Regions from separate parts of the Homo sapiens genome. Here region 1 is linked to region 2. The links come from fine-mapping of genetic effects on gene expression. A gene starts in region 2. The other region holds a variant in brackets. All regions are shown on one strand. Distances are between the middles of the regions. Region 1 has its middle 20 kb from the start of DEGS2. Region 2 holds the start of DEGS2 (delta 4-desaturase, sphingolipid 2).

Region 1 (12,347 bases), 22 kb before region 2:
CCTTGTGTCAGAGGTGTTTGAACCAGAGTGATTCCATCTTGAATAGGAAATGGGTAAAATGAGACTGACACCTGCTGGCCTCATCCCAGGAGGTTAGGCATTCTAAGTCACAGGGTGAGAGATAAGAGGTCACAAGAGAGACAGGTCACAAAGGCCCAGCTGATAAAACAGGATGCAGGCCAGGCGCGGTGGCTCACACCTGTAATCCCAGCACTTTGGGAGGCTGAGGTGGGCGGATCACGAGGTCAGGAGATCAAGACCATCCTGGCTAACACAGTGAAACCCCGTCTCTACTAAAAATACAAAAAATTAGACGGGTATGGCGGCGGACACCTGTAGTCCCAGCTACTCGAGAGGCTGAGGCAGGAGAATGTGTGAACCCGGGGGGCGGAGCTTGCAGTGAGCTGAGATCGCACCACTGCACTCCAGCCTGGGCGACAGAGCAAGACTCCATCTCAAAATAAATAAATAAATAAATAAAAATAAATAAATAAATAAATAAACCAGGATGCAATAAAGAAGCCAGCAAAAACCCACGAAGACCAAGATGGTGACGAAAGTGACCTGGTCATCCTCACTGCTCATTATACAATAACTACAATACATTAGCATTAGGATTAGCATGCTAAAAGACACTCCAACCAGTGCCATGACAGTTTACAGATGCCATGGTAATGCCCAGAAATTACCTGATATGGTTTAAAAAGTGAAAGAACCCTCAGTTCTAGGAATTGCCTGCCCCTCTCCTGGAAAACTCATGAAGAATCCACCCTTTGTTTAGCATCTAATCAAGAAATAACCATAAGTATGCTCAGTAGAGCAGCCCGTGCCACTGCTCTGCCTGTGGAGTAGTCATTCTTTTATTCTCCCTCCTCAGCTTCCCAAAATGCTGGGATTACAGGCATGAGCCACCGCGCCTGGCCTATTCCTTTACTTTTTTAAGAAACTTGCTTTCATTTGACTCTGTGGGCTTGCCCGAATTCCTTCTTGCATGAGATCCAAGAACTGTCTCTTGGGGTCTGGATCAGACCCCTTTCCGGTCACACTTGTGTGTAAAATGTCATTGATTTTAAGATGATCCACTGATGATCCAGGCATGGTGGCTCACGCCTGTACCCCCAGCACATTGGGAGGCGGAGGCAGGAGGATTGCTTAATCCTAGGAGTTTGAGACCAGCCTGGGCAACATAGTGAGACTCCATCTCTACAAATAATTTTAAAAAAATTAGCTGGCTGTGAGGCTGGGCGTGGTGGCTCATGTCTGTAATCCTAGCACTTTGAGAGGCCAAGGCAGGTGGATCCCCTGAGGTCAGGAGTTCAAGACCAGCCTGGCCAACATGATGAAACCCCATCTCTACAGAAAATACAAAAATTAGCCAGGCGTGGTGGCAAGTGCCTATAATCCCAGCTACTCAGGAGGCTGAGGCAGGAGAATCGCTTGAACCAGGCAGGGCGGAGGTTGCAATGAGCCGAGATCACGCCACTTCACTCCAGCCTGGGTGAAAGAGTGAAACTCCGTCTCAAAAAATAAAAAATAAAAATAAAAATAAAAAATTAGCTGGGTGTGGTAGCACATGCCTGTGGTCCTAGTTACTAGATCATCTCTTTTTTTTTGGACACAGGATTTCGTTCTATCATCCAGGCTGGAGTGCAGTGGCATGATCTCAGCTCACTGCAACCTCTGCCCCCTGGGCTCAACTGATCCTCCTGCCTCAGCCTCCTGAGTACAGGTGTGTACCACTATGCCCAGCTATTTTTTTGTATTTTTACTAGAGACAGGGTCTTGCCATGTTGCCCAGGCTGGTCTCAAACATCTGAGCTCGAGGGATCCACCCATCTCAGCCTCCCAAAGTGTTGGGACTACAGGCATGGGCCATGAGCCACCACGCCTGGCCTGAACAACTTTTTTTTTTTTTTTTGAGATGAAGTCTCGCTCTGTCACCCAGGCTGGAGTGCAGTGATGCGATCTCCACTCACCGCAACCTCCGCCTCCCAGGTTCAAGCGATTCTCCTGCCTCAGTCTCCCGAGTAGCTGGGACTACAGGCATGTGGCACCATGCCCAGCTAATTTTTGTATTTTTAGTAAAGACAGGTCTTCACCTTGTTGACCAGGATGGTCTCAATCTCTTGACATCATGATCTGCCCGCCTCGGCCTCCCAAAGCACTGGGATTACAGGCGTGAGCCACCGAGCCAGGCCCTGAACAACTTTTTCAATGAAAATGAAACTCTGTCCCTCAAACAATCTCTGCAGAGGTTCACCAGTGGTCATACTGTAACAGTGGAAAAGAACGGACACAACTAACTCTATTTTTTGTTGTTGTTGTTGTTTTGTTTTGTTTTTGAGATGGAGTCTTGCTCTGTCGCCCAGGCTGGAGTGGAGTGGCACGATCTCAGCTCACTGCAACCTCCATCTCCCATGTTCAAGTGATTCTCCTGTCTCAGCCTCCCAAGTAGCTAGGATTACAGGCTCATGCCACCGCGACTGGGCAATTTTTGTATTTTTAGTAGAGATGGGGTTTTACCATGTTGGTTGGCCAGGCTGGTCTTAAACTCCTGACCTCAAGTGATCTGCCTGCCTCAGCCTCCCAAAGTGCTGGGATTACAGGTGTGAGCCACCATGCCCAGTCCTTTTTTTTTTTTTTCAAGGGGCCTTTACCCATTCCCGTTTGTAAGCCGGGATAATTTACAGCACTGAGATAAAATGCACAAACAGCAATCATGTAGTTCGTAAAACTAACTCTGGGATTAGAGGGGAAGTAGGTAAGCCAGGAACTACGTTTTGTTAAGGATTTATAGGAGCATCATGACCCTTGACTAAGGACAAAGAAGTTCCCAACCTCTTCAGACCCTCGCTGGCTCCTAGATGTCTGTGGTCCTCGGTCACCTCTTGATCCCAAGCCCTGCACATGGTTTCCCCATATCCCCCCTCCCACAAAAAGCCTCTGACCAGCCTGAAATACTGAAGATGGGACTTTATTTTTTATTTATTTATATTTTTGAGATAGAGTCTCACTCTGTCGCTCAGGCTGGAGTACAGTGGTGCCATCTCGGCTCACTACAACCTCTACCTCCCAGGTTCAAGCGATTCTCTTGCCTCAGCCTCCCAAGTAACTGTGATTACTGGCACCCACCACCACGCCCAGCTAATTTTGTATTTTTAGTAGAGCCAGGATTTCGCCATGTTGGTCAGGCTGACCTCAGGTGATCCGCCCACCTTGGCCTCCCAAAGTGCTGGGATTACAGGTGTGAGCCACCGCGCCCCACCTAATTTTTGTATTTTTAGTAGAGAAAGGGTTTCACCATGTTGGCCAGGCTGGTCTGTAACTCCTGACCTCAGGTGATCCACCTGCCTCGGCCTCCCAAAGTTCTGGGATTACAGGCATGAGCCACCACGCCCAACCATGCCTGGCTAATTTTTGTATTCTTAGTAAAGACGGGGTTTCACCATGTTGGCCAGGCTGGTCTTGAACTCCTGACTTCAAGTGATCCACCCACTTCAGCCTCCTAAAGTGCTGGGATTACAGGCATGAGCCACCACCCCAGGCCTTAAGATGGTACGTTAGAGCACGAGTTCCCCATCTCAGTTTTGCCGGCTCTCTGAATAAGCCTGCTTTTCCTCCCACCAACCCTCATCTCTTGTGTCTGGCTTTTGAGGGTTGAGCAATCAAACCTAGGTTCAGTTACAATATCTAGGATGGAATTGGAGGACATCTTGATTTTCTTCCCTCTGGACCCTATGTGCCTGCCTGGACTGCCCTGGCCACCCAGCAGAGTTCTGCCCTCCTTCCCTTGGGTTGCTTGAAGTGTCTGGTGTCCTTGGCAATGATCACAGTGTGGGTATCTCAGTGGGAGCCACCTGGGTGGGGAGGCTCAGGCTGTGTCATCCCAGATTCCAGATAGCACAAGGCTCCATGCTTAGTGGATGACATCAGATCTGCCCTGCCAGAATCTCCTTTCTCCAGCCTCTTTTGTGAATCTTGGCACGGCTGACGTTAGCTCAAAAGCAAATCATGTTTGATATTAATTTATTAAAGCATTCTGGAAGTTCCTCAGCTGCCTTAGTTTCAGGACCCCAGAGTTCCCAGAAGAACCCTGCATTGGCTAGTGCCAGCCAGTGGCTGTGACGGTCATACCTGCCCTGCTGAGCCTCCTCCAGCATCCTCTGCTCCAGCCCAACTATCCAGACCACAACTTGTACAGTACTCCCTCCCAGTCTTTGTTTCTGCTGTTTCTTCAACCTGGGATACCATCCACTGTCCAGTTTTTGTTTGTTTGTTTTGTTTTTTGTTTTCTTTTCTTTTTTTTAATTGATCATTCTTGGGTGTTTCTCGCAGAGGGGGATTTGGCAGGGTCACAGGACAATAGTGGAGGGAAGGTCAGCAGATAAACAAGTGAACAAAGGTCTCTGGTTTTCCTAGGCAGAGGACCCTGCGGCCTTCCGCAGTGTTTGTGTCCCTGGGTACTTGAGATTAGGGAGTGGCGATGACTCTTAACGAGCATGCTGCCTTCAAGCATCTGTTTAACAAAGCACATCTTGCACCACCCTTAATCCATTCAACCCTGAGTGGACACAGCACATGTTTCAGAGAGCACAGGGTTGGGGGTAAGGTCACAGATCAACAGGATCCCAAGGCAGAAGAATTTTTCTTAGTACAGAACAAAATGAGAAGTCTCCCATGTCTACCTCTTTCTACACAGACACGGCAACCATCCGATTTCTCAATCTTTTCCCCACCTTTCCCGCCTTTCTATTCCACAAAGCCGCCATTGTCATCCTGGCCCGTTCTCAATGAGCTGTTGGGTACACCTCCCAGACGGGGTGGTGGCCGGGCAGAGGGGCTCCTCACTTCCTAGTAGGGGAGGCCGGGCAGAGGCGCCCCTCACCTCCCGGATGGGGCGGCTGGCTGGGCGGGGGGCTGACCCCCCCCGCCTCCCTCCCGGACGGGGCGGCTGGCCGGGCAGAGGGGCTCCTCACTTCCCAGTAGGGGCGGCTGGGCAGAGGCGCCCCTCACCTCCCGGATGGGGCGGCTGGCCGGGCGGGGGGCTGACCCCCCCACCTCCCTCCCGGACGGGGCGGCTGGCCGGGCGGGGGGCTGACCCCCCCCACCTCCCTCCCGGACGGGGCGGCTGGCCAGGCAGAGGGGCTCCTCACTTCCCAGTAGGGGCGGCCAGGCAGAGGCGCCCCTCACCTCCCGGACGGGGCGGCTGGCCGGGCGGGGGGCTGACCCCCCCACCTCCCTCCCGGACGGGCGGCTGGCCAGGCGGAGGGGCTCCTCACTTCTCAGACGGTGTGGCTGCCGGGCGGAGGGGCTTCTCACTTCTCAGACGGGCGGTTGCCAGGCAGAGGGTCTCCTCACATCCCAGACGGGGCGGCCGGGCAGAGACGCTCCTCACTTCCTAGATGGGATGGCGGCCGGGCAGAGACGCTCCTCACTTTCCAGACTGGGCAGCCAGACAGAGGGGCTCCTCACATCCCAGACGATGGGCGGCCAGGCAGAGACGCTCCTCACTTCCCAGACGGGGTGGCGGCCGGGCAGAAGCTGCAATCTCGGCACTTTGGGGGGCCAAGGCAGGCAGCTAGGAGGTGGAGGTTGTAGTGAGCCGAGATCATGCCACTGCACTCCAGCCTGGGCACCATTGAGCACTGAGTGAACGCAACTCCGTCTGCCATCCCGGCACCTCGGGAGGCCGAGGCTGGCGGATCACTCGCGGTTAGGAGCTGGAGACCAGCCCGGCCAACACAGCGAAACCC[C/T]GTCTCCACCAAAAAAATACGAAAACCAGTCAGGCGTGGCGGCGCGCGCCTGCAATCGCAGGCACTCCGCAGGCTGAGGCAGGAGAATGAGGCAGGGAGGTTGCAGTGAGCCGAGATGGCAGCAGTACAGTCCAGCTTTGGCTCCGCATCAGAGGGAGACCGTGGCAAGAGAGGGAGAGGGAGACTGTGGGGAGACAGAGAGGGAGAGGGAGAGGGATTGTTTTTTGTTTTCGTTTTTGTTTTTTGAGATGGAGTCTCGCTCTGTCGTCCAGGCCGGAGTGCAGTGGCGTGATCTCGGCTCGCTGCAACCTCCATTTCCCAGGTTCAAGCGATTCTCCTGCTTCAGCCTCCCGAGTAGATGGGATTACAGGCATGCACCACCATGCCCAGCTAATTTTTGTATTTTTAGTAGAGACAGGGTTTTGCCATGTTGGTAAGGCTGGTCTCGAACTCCTGACCTCAGGTGATCCACCTGCCTCGGCCTCCCAAAGTGCTAGGATTACAAGCATGAGCCACCGCGCCTGGCTCACTGTCCAGTTTTTGCAGCTCTAGACCTCATCCATTCTCTAAGACTCAGACTGACATCACTTCCTTCTGGAGAGCACCCGTCCCTCCTCCCAAGGCCCTATCACAGCCTGACGATGGTAACTAGCCATGGTGCCACTCCTAGAAACCCTGGCTTCCCTGCATCCTCTGACTCTTGTCTTTGCTTCCTCTCCAAGACATGAACGTCCCTGGACAGAGCTAGAACAGCCACAGAGCTTTCTGGGAAGAGTTTTGGAGTCAGACAAGACGTTGGTTCCTTGGTTCCCCTGAACTGCAATTTCCGTCGTCATAAAATGGGGATATTGATAGTTGTTCACCACTGTGAGGATAGACGGCTGCCCTGGGCTGTGCGCTGGGGACACAGCATCAGAAATGTCTGGCCTACCTTCACGAAGGGGCTTGAACATGGGGGAACTATGATTAGTAACAGTGTGGTGTTATTATATTCATTTATTTGTGTATTTATAGTAACGTGCAAAACCTTAAGTGAGCAACCAGATGATTTTTCTCTATGTCCACCTACGGCTCCATCCAGATTGCATTACAGCAAATTTCCAGCTCCCAGAAGCCTCCAAAGGCAACTACTATTTAGACTTTTACCACCATAGATTAATTTTACCTTTGTTTTGTACTTTATATAAATGAAATCCTGCAGCGTGAATGTGGTCAAGGACCAGGGACCAGGCTGCCTGAGCTGAAGAGGGGATTTAGGAGAGGCCACGTCTAAGCTGGGTCCCAGCGCCAGGCAGGAGCAGGACCCCAGCTCTAGGTCCTCCCCTCCACCCTGTGTGACTCCACACTGGTCTCCCCACAGCAGCGCCGGGCCTAGGCACTCAGTATGTTTTTCCCTGTGGGAGGGAGGTGGGGTACAGTGAGTCAGGAGTGGGGTTTGAAGGCTATGGGTCAGGGCCAGAAAGGCAGGTTGGGCGAATTGAGCCAGGCCCCTATGTCCGCAAGCTGGGCGATGAAGTCAGTGCCGTGAGTAGTCCTGGTGGCATTAGTCATGCGCTCTGTTCTCACCTCCTGGAGCAGACCATTCCTGCACCCCACTCTCCAGGGGCCCAACCTCAGTTTCCCTGGTGGGACCTTCGAGAGGCTTGGCTCAGCCAGTGATGGATTTGTTCACTTGTCTCTTTCAAGGCCTCACCCCCACACACCCTTGCTCTTTGTCCTGCCCCAGCCTCTTCAGAGCTGGGACCAGGCCAGTGACCCAAGGAGGATTCCGCTTAAAAGGCTCTCCCTTGTGCGGACACCTCATCCACATCCTCCCCACCCCACGTCCCAACTCCCTGAGGCCCTCCCAGACCTCAACACTCCCAGGCTCCCCAGGGCACTAAGCCTCTGAGCCCTGCTCCACTCCCCTTCCCCAGCCACAGTGGCCCTTGCTCCTTCCCACCACCAGGCCTGTGTCCCAGCCGTGCCTGCAGCTGAGAATCTCTCCTCTCCCTGGTCAGGAACTCTCTCCGTCCTTCAAGGCCCTCAAGGCCTGAACTCACACTTCTTGGATGCCCTGTGGCCCTTCTGTCTGGGCACTCCCAGCCTTGGCACCAGGCCATTCACCCTCTGTGGCATCATGCAGCCTTTGTACCGAGCCCTGAACTCGACCGGGAAGGGGCCTGTTGCTCCCCCTCCTCCCAGGTGGGGACAGATGGGGTCGACAGAAAAGAGGTTAAAGTAAGAAATTCGTGCCCACTGAGACGCTGGGCCCGCGACTCCCCTGGCCCTCTGGGACTCCCTTATCTCGGGCCCTGGTTTATGGGAGGTAGGGCGGGATCCCGCAGCCCGCGCCTCGGTTCCATAGCTGCACGCAGGTCCCTGCTCCCGGCGAGCGTTGGGCCAGGTTCGAGGACAGGCGCGGCACTGGGCTGGGCTGGGCTGGGCTGGGCTGGGCTGGGCCGCAGCGGGAGCAACGTGGGCTGCTCCGGGCTCCGGGCTGCAGGGGCAGGAGGATCAATGCTCCCAGGGGCGGGGGTATCAATGCTCCCGGGGGGGGAACCGCGAGTGCAAAGCACCCTCCTCTCCCCACCCCCGCCGCCGCGGACAGTGCAGGATTGGGAGGCCTGGGGACCTGGCTGGCGGGGGGCAATGCGCTGGGAATGGGTGGCGAAGGAGGACGAGCCTGGGAGGAGTCCACTAATTCAAAAAAATTTAATTAGATATCTTTTTATACCGGCCCGGTGGCTCACACCTGTAATCCCAGCACTTTGGGAGGCTAAGTTGGGAGGATCCCTTGAGCCCAGGAGTTTGAGACCAGCCTGGGCAACACAGCAAGACCCCGAGACCCCATCCCTAAAAAAGAAAAAAGAGATATATATATTTTTTTTAATTAGCTGGGCGTGGTGGCACATGCCTGTATTCCTAGCTACTGGGAATGCTGAGGAGGGAGGATTACTTGAACCCAGGGCTTAGAAGGCTATAGTGAGCTATGATCACACCACTGCAATCCAGCCTGGGCAACAGAGCAAGACCCTGTACCCAAACAAAAAACAAAAACCCAAAACCCCCAAAGATATCTTTTCTGCCTTTAAATGATTAACATTCGTAAAACTCAAACTGGGCAGATGCATTAAAAGAAAAATCCTCATCCCGCAGCCCCCCTCCAGTTTGACAGGATCCTTCCAGGCCTTCTCCAGAACCTCCACTCACACACAAACACACACAGATACCTCTGCAGACAGACAGATGCACACAGGCACACCTTTGCACAGACACACACAGCCACCCACACAGCCACAAGGACACACGGTAATTATATAAAAAGGTGATCAGAACAGTCTTCGGCGTGGGTGTATTTATGCAGACACGTCTTTAGTGACAAACCTACGTATATTTTACTTTTACAGGTTTTGCTGTAAGAACAGATGCTACTCACGCGCCATCTCCCTGTTCCGGCCCCTCCCACCACGCCCTGGAGGCATTTCGCTGTGTCTGTCCCATCTTCCACACTGCCGCTGCGGGCATGGTCCCACCGTAGGGACTCGGTGCCAGGTTGTGCACATCTAAACTTCATGCCTGGTGACTCCATTTCCAAGGCTGAGGGGTGGTGGCAATGGGGTGCCCTGGGGTTGTGGAGGTGGAGTTTTGCTCACCTCTGGGATTCAGGAAGGTGCCCTGGGCATGAGGCCAAGGAGAGAAGTCAGACGTGAGCCGCTGAACTGGGGACAGACTTGACTTTCTTCTTCTTGTTTTGTGTTTTGCAGAGACTGGGTCTTGCTGTGTTGCTCAGGCTGCTAGGCTGGCCTTGAACCCCTGAGCTCAAGCGATAGCCTCCCAAATTGCTAGGATTACAGGCCTGAGCCACCCTACCTGGCCCTCCTTGCCATTTTTTAAAAATTTAATTTTTGTGGGTACATACTAGGTGTATATATTTACGGTGTACATGAGATTACATGAGATATCTTGATACAGGCATGCAATGCATAATAACCACATCAGGGTACCCAACAGGTCAAGTTTTTTTTTTTTTTTTTTTTTTTTTTGAGATGGAGTCTTTTTTTGTTGCCCGGGCTGGAGTGCAATGGTGCGATCTCTGCTCACTGAAGCCTCCATCTCCTGGGTTCAGGTGATTCTCCTGCCTCAGCCTCCTGAGCAGCTGGGATCACAGGCGTGCGCCACCACGCCCAGCTCATTTTTGTATTTTTAGTAGAGAAACGTTTTCACCGTGTTGGCCAGACTGGTCTCGAGTTTCTGACCTCAGAGTGATCCACCTGCCTCAGCCTCCCAGAGTGCTGGGATTACAGACGTGAGCCATCGCGCCCAGCCAGTTCAAGCATTTATCTTTTGCGTCCTTGACATTCTTGAGGGACATGTTTGAGGTCTTTGGGGCTCTCCAGATTTGTGTCCACAACAAACATTGATTATCCACTGAAAATGCAATCACATTCAACCGGAAATAGCCCCTTGGAGGATCCTTAGGTCAGTGGGGGGAGCTGAGTGGGCTCCTGCCTGTCTGTCAGCATTTCATCCCCAGCATCCTGTGTCCATGGGCTGCACCGGCATGGAGGGGGTTCCCACTGGGTGGCACCGGCAGCAGAGGCAGCCTCACACCTCACGCACTATCCGAGCTTCAGAATGCGTCTCTGTATGCTGGTGGGGCCAGAAGCCCGGCTGCCTCTGTGCCTGGCTGCCATGCTCAGTCTTTCTTGGGCCTGGGCTGGGGACCTGGCTGGGGAAACCAAGAGTATTTCAGAGCTGTGGTTTGGGACGTGGATATCCCATGGAGCGCCCGAGCCAGATGTGCCAGGGCCAGAGCGCACCTCCACTCCTGAGGAGTCCCTTTGCCCTCCACTGTAAAGCGCTGAAATGTGGTGGCCTGGGCTCCCAGCTGACGGCACGGGAAGCACTGTATTTGTCGGCCCAGGGATGAAGGTGGCACAATTCAGAGTAGAGCCCGGTTCTGCCTTGGTGTTGGCTCTTGCCTGTGGGGCTGGCACCACGTCCCCTGCTCCGAATGCCTGCACCTGCTTGGGTGTGTTTGTGTGTGGTCTGCAATTGGGATTCCGCACCCCCTCAGCCCCACCCACCAGTTTTTATTTTATCCTTAAGACACATGTTTGAAAGTGACCTAATCAACGAGGTGTCATAAATGAAATAGCGACAAGAGTGCTCAGGGGATGGCATAAGGCTGAGGGCCCCAAGAGGGAGGCTCCCAGCAACCCTGTGGAAATCACCCAGCAGCCCATGGCCCCCGACACCTGGTTCTCCCAGATGACAACTGCTGTGGCCTGAGGGCCCACTGTGTGCCAGGCAAGGCTGTGGGTGTTTGACACACAGGCTCCTGCTCCTGAGAACTCCAGGAAGTAGGGTAGCTATCTCCACTTTACAGGGGAAGAGACTGAGGCACAGAGGCGAAGTGATTTGCCCAAGCTCAGCTGGCGGGTAAGAGGCTGAGATGCCATCTCAGCTGGGTCTGTGTCCAGGGGCTGTGCTGCCCCTTGGGCCAAAAAGGAAAGACAGAGAATTAGACAAGACCACCGAGGTAGTGAGCAGAGTTGGGGAGAGGGGGAAAGAAGGACAAGTCATCAGTTCAGGCTGACAAATCAGGGAGGCCTCTCAGAGCAGGTGGCACTTGGTCTTGACATGAGGGTTTGGAAAGAGTTGGGGCAGGCATGCAGGATGAGAGGCCTGGGGATACAGGGAGGGAGTGGAGACCAGCGTGGAGTCAGGGTTGGAGGAGTGCATTCAGGTGGACTAGCCAGATGCAGCCGTGCAGGCACGGAGGGCTGGTCTGGGCCATGCCTTACGGGGGCAGGCTATAGTGGGCTATAGTGGGAGACAGGAGAGGCCGCAGTGGGGTGGACATGCACGAGGCTGCGGCATGGCCTTTCTGTGCACAGCTTCACTGAGAAGTCTGTGGACAGTCTCACTTATTCATCTGCAGGCAGTTTATTTCTGTTTCTTCTTGGAAGCTCTAGGGATTTCCTTTCCCTCCCTCCCTCCCTCCCTCCCTCCCTTCCTTCCTTCCCTCCCTCGTTTTCTTTTTTTGAGACAGGATCTCACTCTGTTGCCCAGGCTGGAGTGCAGTGGCACGATCACGACTCACTGAAGCCTTGGCCTCCCAGGCTCAGGTGATCCTCCCACCTTGGCCTCCCAAGTAGCTGGGACTATAGGCATGAGCCACCAGGCCAACTATTTTATTTTATTTTATTTTTTGTAGAGACAGGGTTTCTCCATGTTGTCCAGGTTGGTCTCAAACTCCTGAGCTCAAGTGATCCTCCCACCTCAGCCTCCCAAAGCGCTGGGATTGCAGGCATGAGCCACCGTGCTCTATGGCTTTGGGATTTTTGTTTTCATCTCCTTACTCAAAAATTTCTCTACAATGTTTCTAGATGGTAACTTTGGGTTTTGCTGTTATTGTTTCAAGTTGTGCTCAGTTCTCTTTCTTTCTTCTTTTTTTTTTTTTTGGACACAGAGTCTTGCTCTCTCGCCAGGCTGGAGTGCAGTGGTGCAATCTCAGCTCACTGCAACCTCCGCCTCCTGGGTTCAAATGATTCTCCTGCTTCAGCCTCCTGAGTAGCTGGGATTACAGGCTCCTGCCACCTCGCCCAG
Region 2 (15,285 bases):
AGCAGGGCCGCCTGCGGGGCACCCCCAAACACTAGGAGGAAGTCCCTCCCGTGGCTCCCTTTGGAGGAGCCTTGGGGAACCTGGCCAGCCAGCCCGGAAGGAGGCAGGCACAGCTCAGATCAGAGCTCAGAGGACCCAGGTCCTGAGTTCGGAGCGGAGAGGCGTCCACAGCAGCAGCACCAGGCGGCGCAGGCGGGGGCACCGCCCGTCCGCGGCCGCCCGGTGGAACCAGTTACCGAGAGCAGCGCAGTGGCGCCTCACTCCACCCTGCTAGCTGCGCCCACTGCTTGAAATGCAGGCAGGTGTAGTGAGGCCCACAAATCAGGGGATGTTGCCGTTGAAAAGATGGTTTGTCACTCACAGTTCTCAAGAGCAGGGGCTGCGCCACACGGCGCGGGTCGGGGACACACGGGCGAACGCTGGGGTCTGCTGAAGTCAGGGGGAGGAGAGGGAAACGTGAGCAAGAGCCTTTATTGGGGTTTCTGTGGGAAGAAACAGTCAAGGCAGGGTGAGCAGGCTTTGGACTGGCTGGTTTGAGTAATTTCAGGGCTCTGGGACAGAGGGGCTGTCCGGAGTTGTCTGATACCTGGCCCTGGTGTGATCAGGGCAGGGGAATATTGGCCCTGAGTGTGAGAGACAGAGGAGGTAGTGGGCTGTGGGCTGTGAGGTGGTCACTGGCATCTGAGAAGGAATCTCTAGTCCTAGGAGGGGCAGCCTCTCTAGGGTCAGCTAGGCCCCAGGACACAGAAAATAAAAGCATCAGACACAGAAAATAAAAATGTTCTGTGGGTGGCAGTAATTCATTTTTTATTACCACCCACCATTGCAGTGTAAGGAGATAGCATAAGCGGCTTATCCATTCTTCGTTTTTTGTTGTTGTTGGACATTGGAGTTACCTCCAGCTTTGGCTTTTACTAATAAAGCTGCCAGGACTATTCTCGCACATGTATTTGGTGGCCACACATGTTCACTACTCCTGGGTATAGACCCTGGCATGCGCAGCTTTCATAGATATTACTGAAGAGTTTTCCAAAGTGATTAAGCCAAATTTTAATGTTGTTGGCACCCTTAAGCCTTTCGGTCTGAAGACTCATGCCTTCCTTCTGTCATTCATTCAGCAAATCACTGTTTTATTATTACTATTATTATTATTAGTTTTTGAGACGGAGTTTCGCTCTTGTTGCCCAGGCTGGAGTGCAGTGGCACGATCTTGGCTCACTGCAACCCCTGCCTCCCTGGTACAAGTGATTCTCCTGCCTCAGCCTCCTGAGTAGCTGGGATTACAGGTGCCCGCCACCATGCCCAGCTAATTTTTTGTATTTTTAGTAGAGACGGGGTTGCAGCATGTTGGCCAGGCTGGTTTTGAACTCCTGGCCTCAAGCAATCCACCCGCCTCGGCCTCCCAATGTGCTAGGATCACAGGGGTGAGTCACCACGCCCAGCCCAGCAAATCATTATTAACAGCAACTCCTTTGCCAGAAAATGTTCTAGGCATTGGTGATACCAGGGGTGATCCCCAGAGAACAGGGCATTCTAGAGGAGGCCCTGTTACGATAGACAAGGACGGCTGGGCGCGGGGGCTCACCCCTGGAATCCCAGCACTTTGGGAGGCCGAGGCAGGAAGAGTGCTTGAGCCCAGGAGTTCCAGACCAGCCTGGGGAACATGGAGGCTCAAGCCATCCTCCTACATCGCGCCTGGGACCACAGGCGCGAGCCACCACACCTGGCTAATTTTTGTATTTTTTGTGGAGACAGGGTTTTGCCATGTTGTCCCGGCTGGTCTCAAACTCCGGGGCTTAAGTTAATCTGCCTACCTCAGCCTTCCAAAGTGTTGGGATTATGGGCGGGCATGAGCCACCTCGCCGGGCCACAAAACCCGGTCTCTGCAAAAAAAACCCCAAAAGAACAAAAATAAGCTGGGTGTGGTGGGCGCACCTATAGTCCCAGCTACTCAGGAGGCTGAGGTAGGAGGATCACCTGAGCCCGGGAGGCAGAGGTTGCAGTGAGCTGAGACTGCACCACTGCACTTCACCTGGATGACAGAGTGAGATCCTATCTTTAAAAAGTAATAATAAAATAAACAAGTAAATAAGTACCTGCTATAATAATTTACTTCCTGTAGGGATAACCCCTAATTACATATAATTAAATTGTAATTACAATTTCAGTGGGATGACTTCTATGAAGGAAACAAGGCTGGGTAGGGACCAGTGTTGCCTCTTCTCCATCCTTTCCTAGCAGTCTGGCTATGAGGCCGCTTGGATCCTGAAACTGTCCTCATGTCTCGATTCCTCCACGGGCTCCGTTTCAATAGAGGGGTGTGGTTTTTATTTTTTTATTTTTATTTTATTTTTTGAGATGGAGTTCGGCTCTTGTCTCCCAGGCTGGAGTGCAGTAGCGAAATCTCAGCTCACCGCAACCTCTGCCTCCTGGATTCAAGCGATTCTCCTGCCTCGGCCTCCCAACTAGCTGGGATTTACAGGCGTGTGCCACCACGCCTGGCTAATTTTTGTATTTTTAGTAGAGACAGGGTTTCATCATGTTGGCCAGGCTGGTTTCAAGTCCTGACCTCAGATAATCCACCCGCCTCGGCATCCCAAAGTGCTGGGATTACAGGCGTGAGCCACCTCGCCCGGCTCGGGTGTGGTTTTTAAATGAGCACTTTTTAAATGTCTATCTCTAGCTCAGTCTTGGGGGCACTGCTCTCACTCCTCCATCGAGTCTGCTTTCCTCAACATCTGTTTGTCAGGCTCTGCTCCTTCTTGGGTCGGTTGCCCTTTCATTCTGTGGCTTTCCTCCGACGTGTGCTGTCTCTGGGTCATGGGCTGTCTGACTCCTTGCTGGCTCCTGGGAGGTGTGGGAGGGGCAGTGTGAAATGTCTTCTGGCCTGTTTTCTGCAAACACGAGGCAGTGGAGGCCTTTTTGCATGGGGCAGCTAATACTGTCATTGAGGCTTTTGGGTGGAGGCCCATCCTGCTCCTGGCACAGCACTCCGGCCAGGGGGCTTACAATCAGGGCCCTCTTGAGAGGTAACCAGCACCCCACCCCTGCTGCTGCCTGGCCCAGGGGAAATGGGGGTGTGGAGGGAGGCCAAGGGGCCACTGAAGAGTAGCTGGCCGTGGTGGGCTCCCTCTCAGTTTCCAGTCCAAAGAGTCCCTGCTTTCCAATGCTGTGTGCGCGTGTGTGTGTGTACACTCCCAAACTTTATATTTAAAAGAAACTATATTTTGGCTGAGCGCGGTGGCTCATGCCTGTGATCCCAGCACTTTGGGAGGCCAAGGTGGGTGGATTCCTTGAGTCCAGGAGTTCAAGACCAGCCTGGTGATCTGCCTGCCTCGACTTCCCAAAGTGCTGGGATTACAGGTGTGAGCCACTGCACCTGGCCTAATAAACTTCATTTTATTTTATTATTTATTTATTTATTTTATTTATTTTTATTTATTTATTTTTGAGACGGAGTCTTGCTCTGTTGCCCAGGCTCTGGAGTGCAGTGGCGCAAACTCGGCTCACTGCAAGCTCCGCCTCCCGGGTTCATGCCATTCTGCCTCAGCCTCCCGAGTAGCTGGGACTACAGGTGCCCGCCACCATGCCCAGCTAATTTTTTTTGTATTTTTAGTAGAGACGGGGTTTCACTGTGTTAGCCAGGATAGTCTCGATCTCCTGACCTCGTGATCCACCTGCCTCGGCCTCCCAAAGTGCTGGGATTACAGGTGTGAGCCACCGTGCCCGGCCTATTTATATTTTTTGAGATGCAGTCTCGCTCTGTCGCCCAGGCTGGAGTGCAATGGTGCAATCTCAGCTCACTGCAACCTCTGCCTCCCAGGTTCAAGCAATTCTCCTGCCTCGATTACAGGTGCCTGCCACCACGCCCAGCTAATTTTTGTATTTTTAGTAGAGACGGGATTTCACTATGTTGGCCAGACTGGTCTCGAACTCCTGAGCTCAGGTGATCTGCCTACCTCAGCCTCCCAAAGTGCTGGGATTACAGGCGTGAGCCACCATGCCCGGCCATAAACTTTATTTTTCAGAACAGCTTTATATTTACAGAAAAACTGTGATGATAGTTTAGAAAGTTCACATATATGCCACACCCAGTTTCCTTTATTTTAATATCTTATAATATGGTGCATTTGTTGCCTTTGATGGACCAATATTGATACACTATGATTAACTATGGTCCAGCTTTACTAGGCTTTCCTTAGCTTTACCTAATGTCCTTTTTCTGCTCCAGGATCCCATTCAAGACACCACATTACAAACGAAAATGTATTTTCTGTCATTTCTGGGACAACGGACAGGGTGGGGACGCAACAGTATGTGCTCCTGGCTCGTCAACACCGTGAAGCTGGGTTTCTGGCTCCCCAGGGACTTGGGGAGCACTTGGCAAGGGCATCAGACTTGATTTCATGCATCCTGGGTGTCTGTTCCACTCCCAGGTCTTCTTCAGCATGTCCTCTGACTTGTCCCCTCTCTGGCCTCAGTTTCCTCATCTGGAAAATGAGGGCCTTGGTGAGTTTCCTCTGGATAGGCGGTGGCCTGGGGCAGAGGGAACTGGCAGGCTTGGTGTTGTCCTGAGGGTGGAGCTGGGGCTCAGGGCGGCAGATCTCACGGAGTTCAACACAGGGGCGAAGGCTCTGATTTTGGAAGCTTTTTAATTCAAAGGTCAGGGGCCAAAGTCATGCCCCAGCCTTGCTGTTAATTCCTCTGTGCCTCAGGCAAGGCGCTCCTCATCTCTGGGCCTCAGTCTCCTGATCTGTAAAGTGATGGCTGGTGGGATGACTTCTGAGGACCCTTCTGGCTGGGAACAGAGCAGGCTGCCCTGGGAGCAATGAGTCTTCTCCCAAGGGTGCAAGCTGGGCCGGGAGGCCTCCTGGGTGTGGCAAGGGGTGATGGCCATGGTGGCATGTGGGTCCCCCTGCTGATGGAAAATCTGGCCTCTGTGTCCACCTTTCCCATGGCTAATTCAGGGGATGGTGGCTGGCGGCTGCAGGACACCCATGCCTTCCTTCCTGGCTCACTCAGGACTGCCTTTGGCCCTGAGCTAAGGAAGGCCTGCCAAGTGTACCAAACCCCGGGCCATGGACTTCCATGGGACGCACAGAAGCACGCCCTCACTATGTGCGAGCCTGTGGCAGCGCTGGCTGATGTGTCAGTCAGCTCCCAGGCAACTGCCAGCCGAGGCCAGGCTCTGGCCCACAGGCACAGCAGGTCCACCCTCCAAAACTCCAAGGGAGTGGGAGAAGGAACAGAGGCATCACTGAGAGGGTGAAGATGAGGGGCCCTGTGCCCTTACCTCCCCAAAACTAGACTTTCCATTTGAGAACATTCAGGTTCTGCCTTGTTTCCAAGCGTTTGCATCTGCTGTTCCCCCTAGCACCAATGCCTTTCCCTTTTCTAGCTGTTGAACTCCTACCCACCCCTCAAGGCCCAATGCAAAAGTTCCTTCTATTGGATCCTAGCTGCTTCAGGGCCTACCTGTGTCATGGCACGTATCACCCTGAATCATAACAGCCACTTCTGTACCTGTGTCCCCATCCAGAACTCAAGTTCCCTGAAGGCAGGAGTGGGTCTGACTCATCCCTGTGAGGTTGCTGCAGACGCATTATCTCCCCTTTGCATTATTGGTGAAAGGGCCGGGTGGAGGAAGGGAGGATTGCTGCACCAACCTTTCCTCGGCGCCTGTTTACTGGCACCGTCGCATCCATTCCACGCCGATCCTCCGCAGTCCCCCTATCCTGCCAGCCGCTCCTCCTTGGGGCAGGGGCGGCGCGAGCCACAGGGGCGTGCCCGCGAGCGGGTCGGGGCTGCGGAGAGAACGGGCCGGGGTAAAAACCCGACGGCTGCCCGCGGGTGGGCGGGGCGCGCAGAGCCGGTGGGAGGCCGCGGTGGCAGCAGTCGCCCCCGCGCATCGAGGGACCCAGGGACTCGCGCAGATGGCACGCGGCCACCTCGGTCCTGCCGGGGAGCCCCATTTCCAACCGAGGCAACTGAGGTTCCCAAAGCGCCAGCTACCCGCCGGGGTCTGGAGAGCGCCGGGGCCCGGCCGCCCCGCCCAGCCAGAGGTGCCCCGCCCCAAGCCTGGCGCACCTGGCCCCGCCCCGCCGGGACCCCGCCCCCGCCCTAATCAGAGCTGGTTCCGCGCCGCGGCCGCCGCGACAGGTGCAGCAGAGCCGAGCCGGCCGCGCTCCGAACGGCGCCTCCCGCCCCACCATGGGCAACAGCGCGAGCCGCAGCGACTTCGAGTGGGTCTACACCGACCAGCCGCACACGCAGCGGCGCAAGGAGATACTGGGTGAGCGCCGCGCGGGGCCCACCCCGGTGGGGACCGCCCCGTTGGCCCGTCTGGAGTCGCGTCGTGGGGTCGAGCCCAGACGGGCCGCTCCAGCTCTGGCCCAAATTCCAGTGGGCGTTCCGCCATTGCCGCTCCCCTCCCTGGGGTCCCCGGCCGGCTCCCCGAGGGTCCCCCACCCTGGCCGGGTCTGAAACTCCCTGGGACCTGAGGATTCCGAGGACCCCAGTACGGGTCCGAGCGCCAGGGAGCGCGTCCCAGCTGTTCCTCGCGAGCCACTCCCGGGGCCAGGGCCGGGGCTCTGGGATGCTGGGACGCGAGGGCGCAGGGGCGGCCCCGGGACGCGCTACGAGGCGCACGCGCTCCCTGGCGCGGAGGCAGCTTGCGCGACGCGGGGCCTCCACCCGCAGTCACTGGGCGCCTGCTGCGCTCAGAGCCCCTGGGTCTCGCGGCCACGGGCGCCCCAGGCTGGAGTTCAGGGCGGATGAGCGCCGGGAAGGGAGCAAACGCGAATGAGAGGCGCGCGTGTTTTCTTTGAAAAAAGCAAAGATTGTACTAAAGAATCCTTCTATTCTGGCATGTCGCTTATTACGTGGTGGCTGTTTTCCTTGTTGCTTCGTGTCCTCTGCGAGGAGGGCATCTTTACCCACTCGGAGTCACTCTCGTTCATGCCAGAGGCCCCATCCCACCCACAAGCAAGGTGGCCCCGGTGAGTCGTCCTTGGCCCGGGCTTACGGGGTTAAAGGGCCTGCGTCTGGAGAGTGGCTTTTGCCAGATGCCACCAAATCGCCACAGGCTGAGACAGGCCCGCCCCTCCCGCCCTGCCTAAGTCAGCACCGCGCGTTGCCACACTTTGTAATCTTCAGTCAGATTGGGGAAACAATACCATTTCACTGTGGCTTTAATTTGCACTTATTTGATGGAGGTTTCACATTTTAATCGGGCGTTTTATTTAATTTAATTAATTTATTTATTTAGAGACAGAGTCTCGCGATCTCGGCTCACTGCGACCCCCGCCTCCCAGGTTCAAGCGATTCTCCTGCCTCAGCCTTCTGAGTAGCTGGGATTACAGGCACCTGCCACCACACCCGGCTAATTTTTGTATTTGTAGTGAGATGGAGTTTCACCATGTTGGCTAGGCGCGATCTTAGCTCACTGCAACCTCTCCCCACTGGGCTCAACTGATCCTCCTACCTCAGCCTCCTGAGTAGTTGAGACTGCAGGTGTGTACCACTATGCCCGGCTATTTTTTTTGTATTTTTACTAGAAACAGGGTCTTGCCATGTTGCCCAGGCTGGTCTCAAACTTCCGAGCTCGAGGGATCCACCCATCTCAGCCTCCCAAAGTGTTGGGACTACAGGCATGGGCCATGAGCCACCACGCCTGGCCTGAACAACTTTTTTTTTTTTTTTTTTTTTTTTTGAGAGGAAGTCTTGCTCTGTCGCCCAGACCGGAGTGCAGTGATGCGATCTCCACTCACCGCAACCTCCGCCTCCCAGGTTCAAGCGATTCTCCTGCCTCAGCCTTCTGAGTAGCTGGGATTACAGGCACCCGCCACCACACCCGGCTAATTTTGTATTTGTAGTAGAGATGGGGTTTCACCATGTTGGCTAGGCTGGTCTCAAACTCCTGACCTCAGGTGATTCACCCGCCTCTGCCTCCCAAACTGTTGGGATTACAGGTGTGAGCCACTGCGCCCAGCCAACTTTTTCTTTCTTCCTCTTTTTTTAATCCCATGGCAGCATACTGAGATACCATGACTTTTAAATGTTTGAAACCCAAGATACATTGGGTGGCTAGCCTGTGACTGCATCCCGGGGTAACTGGGGCCTCAGGAGCTGGAAGCCTCTATGTGGGTTTGTGACTGCTGTGGTTTCTCCTGGGAGGTGAGCTGCAGCCCAGCATCGTCTGGTCCCAGCAGTGGTAGCTGCCTCCCGTATGCTGTGGAACTCCTGGGGAGGGCTGGGAGGAACCTTGGGGGTCATCTGACCCTCCCTCCCTGCTCATCATGTGAACAGGGCAGGTGTCCTGGCTACTGCCCCTCAGCAGGTCTGAGGTGGGGCTGAGGCTGGAGCAGGGGCCTCCTTGGCCCTGTTTGCATTTCTGTCCCCTCCCCTGGCTATCCCCAGCTTCACTTCACAGGACTCATTGGGTATCTGGCACCATGTGGAAAAGGCAAGAGGCACATGGCAGCCAGTGTCCTGGTCCCTAGGAGCTCATATCCATAGAATAGGAGCTGGGCCTACCTCAGGGCCACCTGGAGGGATCCAGACACTCTGGGCTGTGGCCTCACTTTCCCAATCTGCAAAACGGGCAGTCGTCCTACCAGGCAGAGTAGGTGTGAGGATGAGATGATATCTCAGCTGGGAAGGTGCCCGAGGTGGTACCTGGCCCTCCAGGACGTGGGGAAGGAGCTCTCTCTAAAGAGGGAAGCCACAGGCCCTGGAACCAATCCAGGAGGCTTTCTGGAGGTGGTGGCTAGGAAGGTTGAAAGACTTGGAAAAGGGAGAGGCACCTGGGGCCAGGGCTTGGGGAGCACAAGTCCTCAGGGCGGGCCCTCCAGCTTGGTCCACGCTCCCTTTCCTGCAGGGCGGAAGCAGGGGCTTCCTTTCCACCTGTTGTTTTCAGCTAATAAATTTGGAATGTGCCATTCCCTCCCTCCCCGGCACAAGCTGTTCCCCCAGGTGAATGTCCCTCCTCCCTGCTCTGCCAGGCTCTGTCTTGCTTAGCCTTGCTCGCTCAGTTCAGTCCCACCTCCTGCAGAAAGCCCCTCCACTGCTCCCAGACCTGGCCCAGCTGGATGGGGACCCCTCCTCTGGGTTCCCCTCCATGGCTCCAAGCCCTCTGGGCTCTGGGCTCTTTGGGGCACAGTTCAAGAGCTTGGCTGTGGAGCTGAACCCCTGGCAAGGACCCTGACACCCACTTATTAGCCACGGGTGAGTCTGTAAACAGATGAAGGAGTTGGGGCCTGGGCAAATGAAAAGGGGTTAATAAATCATACCTTCCTAATGGGGCTGCTGTGCAGATTAAACGAGGTGATATGTAAAGTGCTTATTCCAGGACTCGATGAGTATCAGCTGCGATGATAATGATTAATGTCTCAGAGACCTGGCAAGGGCTGTCGTTTCCCTAAGGACAGGGAATACTCTCTGCTTCCTCCATGCCTATGCTATTCCCAGGCCTTGGAGAAATGCTCTGTGTAACTGCCAGCATCTCTTTATAGAAGAGGCAGGAGTGAGGCTGAGAGAGGGGAAGCAACTTGCCGGGGAACACACAGGCCAGGCTGGTGCTCAGGCAGCCTCCTGCCCCACCCAGCTGGCTCCTGCAGCCTATGCCAAGCTCCTGGGTGCCCAGGGATGTTCAATAAAGATCATAATCTGACAGTCAGAATCCAGGAAGTCCTTGCAAAGAGCTGGCTCCAGGAGCTCTGTGGGTTGGGGCCAAAGTCCATCTCCAGCTCCTGCCGGGGAGGGGGACATGCTCCCTAGAACATAACTTCCTAAGAAAGTGGGGTCTCCTAGGCCAGGGCTGAGGCTCCCTGACCTGAAAGGGCAGGACCGGAGCCAGCGAGACTGGCCCCATCAGAGACCCAGCCAGGCGTGGCCGGTGGAGTAAGAGGCAAGCTCTGGGTTTGTTTTTTTTTTGAAAATGAATAGCTTTGTAATTTTGTTTGTTTTTAAATTATGAAAGCAGGGCACACATGGTAATACAAAAATTCAAATAAAGAAAAACAAAAGAGGAAATCCCGGAAGCGAAACTGCTGGCTGTTGCTGGATTATTTGCTTCAGAAAGGCCGGGGCTGAGGCTCTGTCAGTGGTAACTGGTAAAATCCAGGACCAAACTGCCAGAGCCACAAGGGGATCCTGGGGCTCCATCTCCCAGCCACAGAGCTGCCCGGCTGCAGGGTAAACCCATCTCTGTAACGTACGGGGGCCTGGCTGCTCCCAGATCTTCAGTATATATTTGTCACTGGAAATGAAAGGCAGGTTTAGTGAGCGGCTGGTGAGAAGCTGGACACTTGCCACACTTTCCAGATCCAACTAGGTCCCAGGGTGCCTCCCACACTGGACAGGGTCAGGCTTGTCTCTTGGCACAAAACCTCAGGTGGCAGGGATGGAAGCTGTGGGTAGGTGGCTTCCCAGAGCATTAGGCCAGGGCTGGGAGGAAGAAGTTTAGGAAGGAGGGGATTAGGAGGGCTTTGCTGCCTTTGTGAGGAGAAGCTTGTCCCAGGTCAGGTTACTCAGCTGTGGATGGGTGGGGAAGAGGCCACGTTGTATGGAAGCATTTCCTGCTGTGGCCACCAGGTGGCATCGTCAACCCTGAGCAGGTTTGTGGTGGAACAGGGAGCTGGGAAGCAGGTGGCGGCAGAGGTGGAATGTTGGAGGGATGATGGGCAGTGACGGGCACCTCCCATGTGGCCAGTGAGTGACTGTCATATGATGGCATTTGGCCTCCCTGGGAAGGTGATACAGCAGGTCTCCCTAGATGTTGCCAGAGCCAGGGCTTGGGGGCTCACTGGGGCCCAGTGTGGAAGAGATAAGAGGCCCCTTTGCTTTTGGGAGCCCTGCTGGGGACAAGACAAAAGTGACTTTATTGCCAGCTAGTCAGGAGGGGCAGGGGTGGAGTGGCCTGTGACTGGGAGTAGGGGTGTGGCGTGGGGGGGCCCTGTCTCTGCTACTCTTGGAGGCAAGGGTACAGCAGCCTCTCTGGCCTGGCTGCCTGTTTCTGATGCGGTCCCTCTGCTCAATGGCTCAGCAGATTTGTCAGGAGCATTTCTGGGCAAAGGCTGTAACCCATCAGAGTCGCACCAGGGTGATGCAACTGTCCTGTGGGTGCAGGGGGCTTTGGGCTGGCCTCCCTTCAGCAGGCCCTGCCTCTGGCTCTGCCCTCTGGCATTTTATGAGTGAGCCTGCTAACTGGTATAAGTGTGCAGACGTTTCACACCTTGGCATCTGCTGCCCCTTCTTCTCCATAGGCCCCTAGGGAAGACCCCACCTCCATGGGCTCCCAGCCACAGAGGCTGTCAGAGCAGATGCCTTACAGATGGAGACTGAGGAGACAGGTCCAGAGAGGGACAGGGGCTTGCCCAAGGGCACACAGGAGTCTGACTGAGCCTGATCCATGATTTTTTCTTTCTTTTTTTTTTTTTTTTTGAGACGCTTTGTTGCCAGGCTGGAGTCCAGTGGTGTGATTTTGGCTCACTGCAACCTCTGCCTCCCAGGTTCAAGCAATTCTCCTGCCTCAGCCTCCTAAGTAGCTGGAACTACAGGCGCACGCCACCTTGTCCAGCTGATTTTTGTATTTTTAGTAGAGACGGGGTTTCACCATGTTGGCCAGGCTGGTTTTGAACTCCTGACCTCAAGTGATCTGCCCGTCTCAGCCTCCCAAAGTGCTGGGATTACAGGTGTGAGCCACTGCGCCCAGATCTGATCCAGAATTTTCTCTGGGTGCTCTGTGGCAGTGTAGCCAAGCACTAGATCGGTGCTGATGGAGTCTGAGTCCACATCGGGGCCTTGCTCACCATTGTGCAGGCCTGGAGTCGGGGGTCCTGAGTTCAAGTCTTGGCTCGGTCAGCCTTGTTGCACCTTGGTGGGCCCTTCTTTGCACCTCCCTTGACCTCAGACCCTTCCTGAGTCCTGCCTGGACAGGGTGACTTCTAGCAACAGCTGTTGTTCATGGCCACCTGCCCAGATGCCTTGTGCCTCACCTGGGGCCGCTGCTGGAAACCGTCTGTGTGGGTCTGTGTATCTTGGTTCCAGGTGGCTGTGCACGTCGGGCTCTGTGCTGCCCCACGGAGCAGAGAGCCCTCAAGGCACATGTGTCTCCCAGCTACTCCTGCCATCCAGGCTGGAGGTGTGGAAGGGCAGAGTCACACCTGAGGTCAGCTGAGTGCCCACAGCAGGACAGAGTTCCCAGGCTGGGCCAGGTTTGGGTGTCTAGCCAGAGCCCATGCAGGCCTGCAATTCCTCATGGGGCTGCCAGGGAGCTGTGTCTCTCCCTGTCCTTCTCTGCCTTGGGCTTTCCCCCTCTCTTGTGGCCCAGAGAAGATGGGGCCCAAGGCCATGGAACCCATTGACTCCCACTCCCCAGCCCCACCCATTCTCCCTGTCCCCCTTTCTTTGAGGCCCTGGAAGAGGCCCTGTATTAGTGTTCTCCAGAGAGACAGAACTGATAGGATCTATGTATCTATCTCTCACATCTATTATCTATCTATCTATCTATCTATCTATCTATCTATCTATCTATCTATCTATCTGTTTTTGCCATTACTGTCGCCCAGGCTGGAGTGCAGTGGTGCAATTGCGGCTCACTGCAGCCCCGAACTCCTGGGCTCAAGCGATCTTCCCACCTCAGCCTCCCAAGTAGCTGGGACCACAGGCACACACCACCACACCTGGCTGATTTTTAAACTTTTTGCATAATAAGGCCTTGCTATATTGCCCAGGCTGATCCTGACCTCCTGGGCTCAAGGAAACCTCCTGCCTCAGCCTCCCAAAGTGCTGAGATTACAATGTAAGCCACCATGCCTGGATCAATCGATATATCGATCTATCTTCCTATCTTCCTTCCTTCCCTTTCCCTCCCTCCCTCCCTTCCTTCTTTCCTTCCATCCATCCATCCATCCATTCGAAGAGGGGATTTATTAGGGGAATTGGCTCATGTGATTATGGAGGCTGTAAAGTCCCATGACAGACTGTCTGCAAGCTGGAGACCCAGGGGTGGCAGTAGGGGTAGCGTGGTTCAGTCTGAGTCTGAGGGCCTCAGAACCAGGGAACTCGACGGTGGAACCCTCAGTATGATATTGAAGGCCTGAAAGCAGGCGGAGGGTGGAGGGTGCTGGTGTAGTTCCTGGAGTCCAAAGGCTGGAGTTTTGATATCCAAGGACTAGAGAAGTGTGTGTTGCAGCTCCAAGAGAGGGAAGTGGTGGGAGAAGTAGAGAAGGATGGGAGGAGAGAGGGAGGGAAAGACAGGAGGGAGACCCTTGTCTCTGCCTTTTTGTTCTATCGGGGCCCTAGCTGATTGGATGGTGCTGGCCCACATTGTGGGCGGGCCTTCCTCACTCAGTCCACTTACCCTCTGCCAGTCTGGAAACACCTTGACAGACACCCAGAAATAATGCTCCATAGCTCTCGAGGAGTTCCTGAGTCCCCTTGGCACCCAGCTCCAGTGACCCTTGCCTTCTCCATGATGCCCACCCTGGCATCTCCATGACGCCCACCCTGGCATCTCCATGACGCCCACCCTGGCATCTCCTTCCCATCCTGCCGTCCTCTGGTGCCTCCCTGTTGCCCTCCCTGCCCCATGCCCTAGGCAGACCCACCCTCGCTACCTCATCTCACCCTCGCCTTGCCTCGGGCTGTGCCGGAATGGCTCCTGCTGAGACACCATGACCTGGCTAAGTCGAGGGACACCTGCTCTCTCTTCTTGTCCCTGAACCTCTGTGACCCCTGGCAGCTGACCACCTCCAAGCCCTGGCTTCAGTTACTACTCCATCCTGACCGTACCCAGGGTGACCTCAGCCACGACCCTCTCCTGCACATCCAGTCTGCATGGCGTGGTCCCGAGTGTTCCTGGCACGTCCCCACTCCCACTCCCCCAGGGACCTGGGCGCTCTGGAGCTGAAGATGGTAGATCTTTGCAATCTTTGCAAAAAGCGTGGGTTGTTTTCTCCTGTCAAGGAGTCAGTCAACTGACCTTGGGTGGGTGCAGAGTAGACCCACTCCTAAGACAGGGCTTCCGGGGGGCCCACTGGAGGCTGGGGTGTTCAGTGAGGCCTTTCTGCCCAGTGGGTTGGGACTCCCAGCCTGTGCCACCTCTGGAACTCCTTGGGTGCAAAGCTCCAGCAGCTGCTGTTTTCAGAACTGTCATGGAGCTCCTGCTCCAGCAAAGCTTCTCTGGGCCTCAGGCCTTTGGCAGGAGCCCCCTGTACCTGCAGTGTGGGTGTCTCGGGCTCCCTGAGTGCCATTCTCTGCTCGTTCAGCTCCTTGGGGGTCCCTCAGCCACGTGCTGCAGTCCAGCAGGTGCCTGCAGGCAGGTGAGGTGACCTGGGGCTCCCTGCATCTGTTCCCTCCTTGAGTCGCGCCCTGTGCTGCCCATGCTCAGCTGCCTCGTGCACTGCTCAGTTTTTAGTTACTTCCAGTTGGTGGCTCCCAAGCCTGCAAGCTTTGGGCCTGCTCTTGTTGAAACAAGCCAGGGCCAGGCCATCGCCCCAAGACCAGCTTTTCCTCTTAGATCAGAGCACTTCCTTTAATGACAATAGTACCAGCTTGTGCCTACTGAGTGCTGGCACCCCCAGGGCTCAGACTAATGTGCTGGCCACTCCACAGCCTGACGGGCATAGAGGAATGGCGTCCCCATTTCCCAGATGGGAAGACGCAGGCTGGTGGGCCCCTGCTATTGGCCAGGTGATGGCTGGGGTTGGGCCCCTGAGGCTTGTTGGGACCCGCCTGCACTAGGCCTCTTGCCAGATGTGCCACACTGGAAACAGCCCAGAGTCCACTCAGAGGGGACTTAGGGGCATGCCTGTTGGATGGGCCAGCCCAGTGCCTGTTTCTGGGGTCCCAGTGGCTCCGGAGGCCCCAGCACACCCATGGGAGATAGGACCAGCCCATAGCTGGGGCCGGGTGAGGGGCTGGTAGGGTGGGCGCTGCTGTCCTTCTGTGTGCAGGTTTCTCCTCTCTCCAGTGGTCCACAGTGGGGCCCCTGAGGGAAGGCTGGGGCTTGGAGGGGCAGCTGAGTCCTAGGAGGTGCTGAGGAAAGCGGGAAGGGCACGGGGCTCCCTGAAAGGCGGCTGCACAGGGCACAGGGAGGGACCCTGAGGGCGCACCATGTAGGCAGAACTTAGCATCTTTGTTCAGCAGATGGGGAAAGTGAGGCCCATTCTCCAAGGTCAGGGCTGCCAGGCTCTGTCATGGCTCTCACCTCTGAGGGGTGCAGAAGTGGCTGATGCTTGCCTGCACCCAAAAGCTGGAGGCCTGGGCTGGCCCTCCCCAGAG

The links.
Region 1: its variant is fine-mapped to the expression of DEGS2 in whole blood (TOPMed, PIP above 0.99).

The regions. Positions count from the first base shown.
Region 1 is chr14:100,173,887-100,186,233 of GRCh38, reverse strand. No RefSeq gene overlaps it. Among named protein-coding and RNA genes, the nearest start is that of DEGS2, 20 kb to the right of the region's middle. The variant C/T (reference allele first, on the strand shown) is at 5,754.
Region 2 is chr14:100,150,513-100,165,797 of GRCh38, reverse strand. It overlaps DEGS2 (delta 4-desaturase, sphingolipid 2), which reads left to right and starts at 6,153. Exons shown (of 3, transcript NM_206918.3): 1 at 6,153-6,292. The coding sequence starts at 6,211. LOC124903380 (a long non-coding RNA gene) reads right to left here and starts at 5,761. Exons shown (of 2, transcript XR_007064330.1): 1 at 5,667-5,761; 2 at 4,084-4,490. RefSeq lists silencers at 5,807-6,206, 6,307-6,366.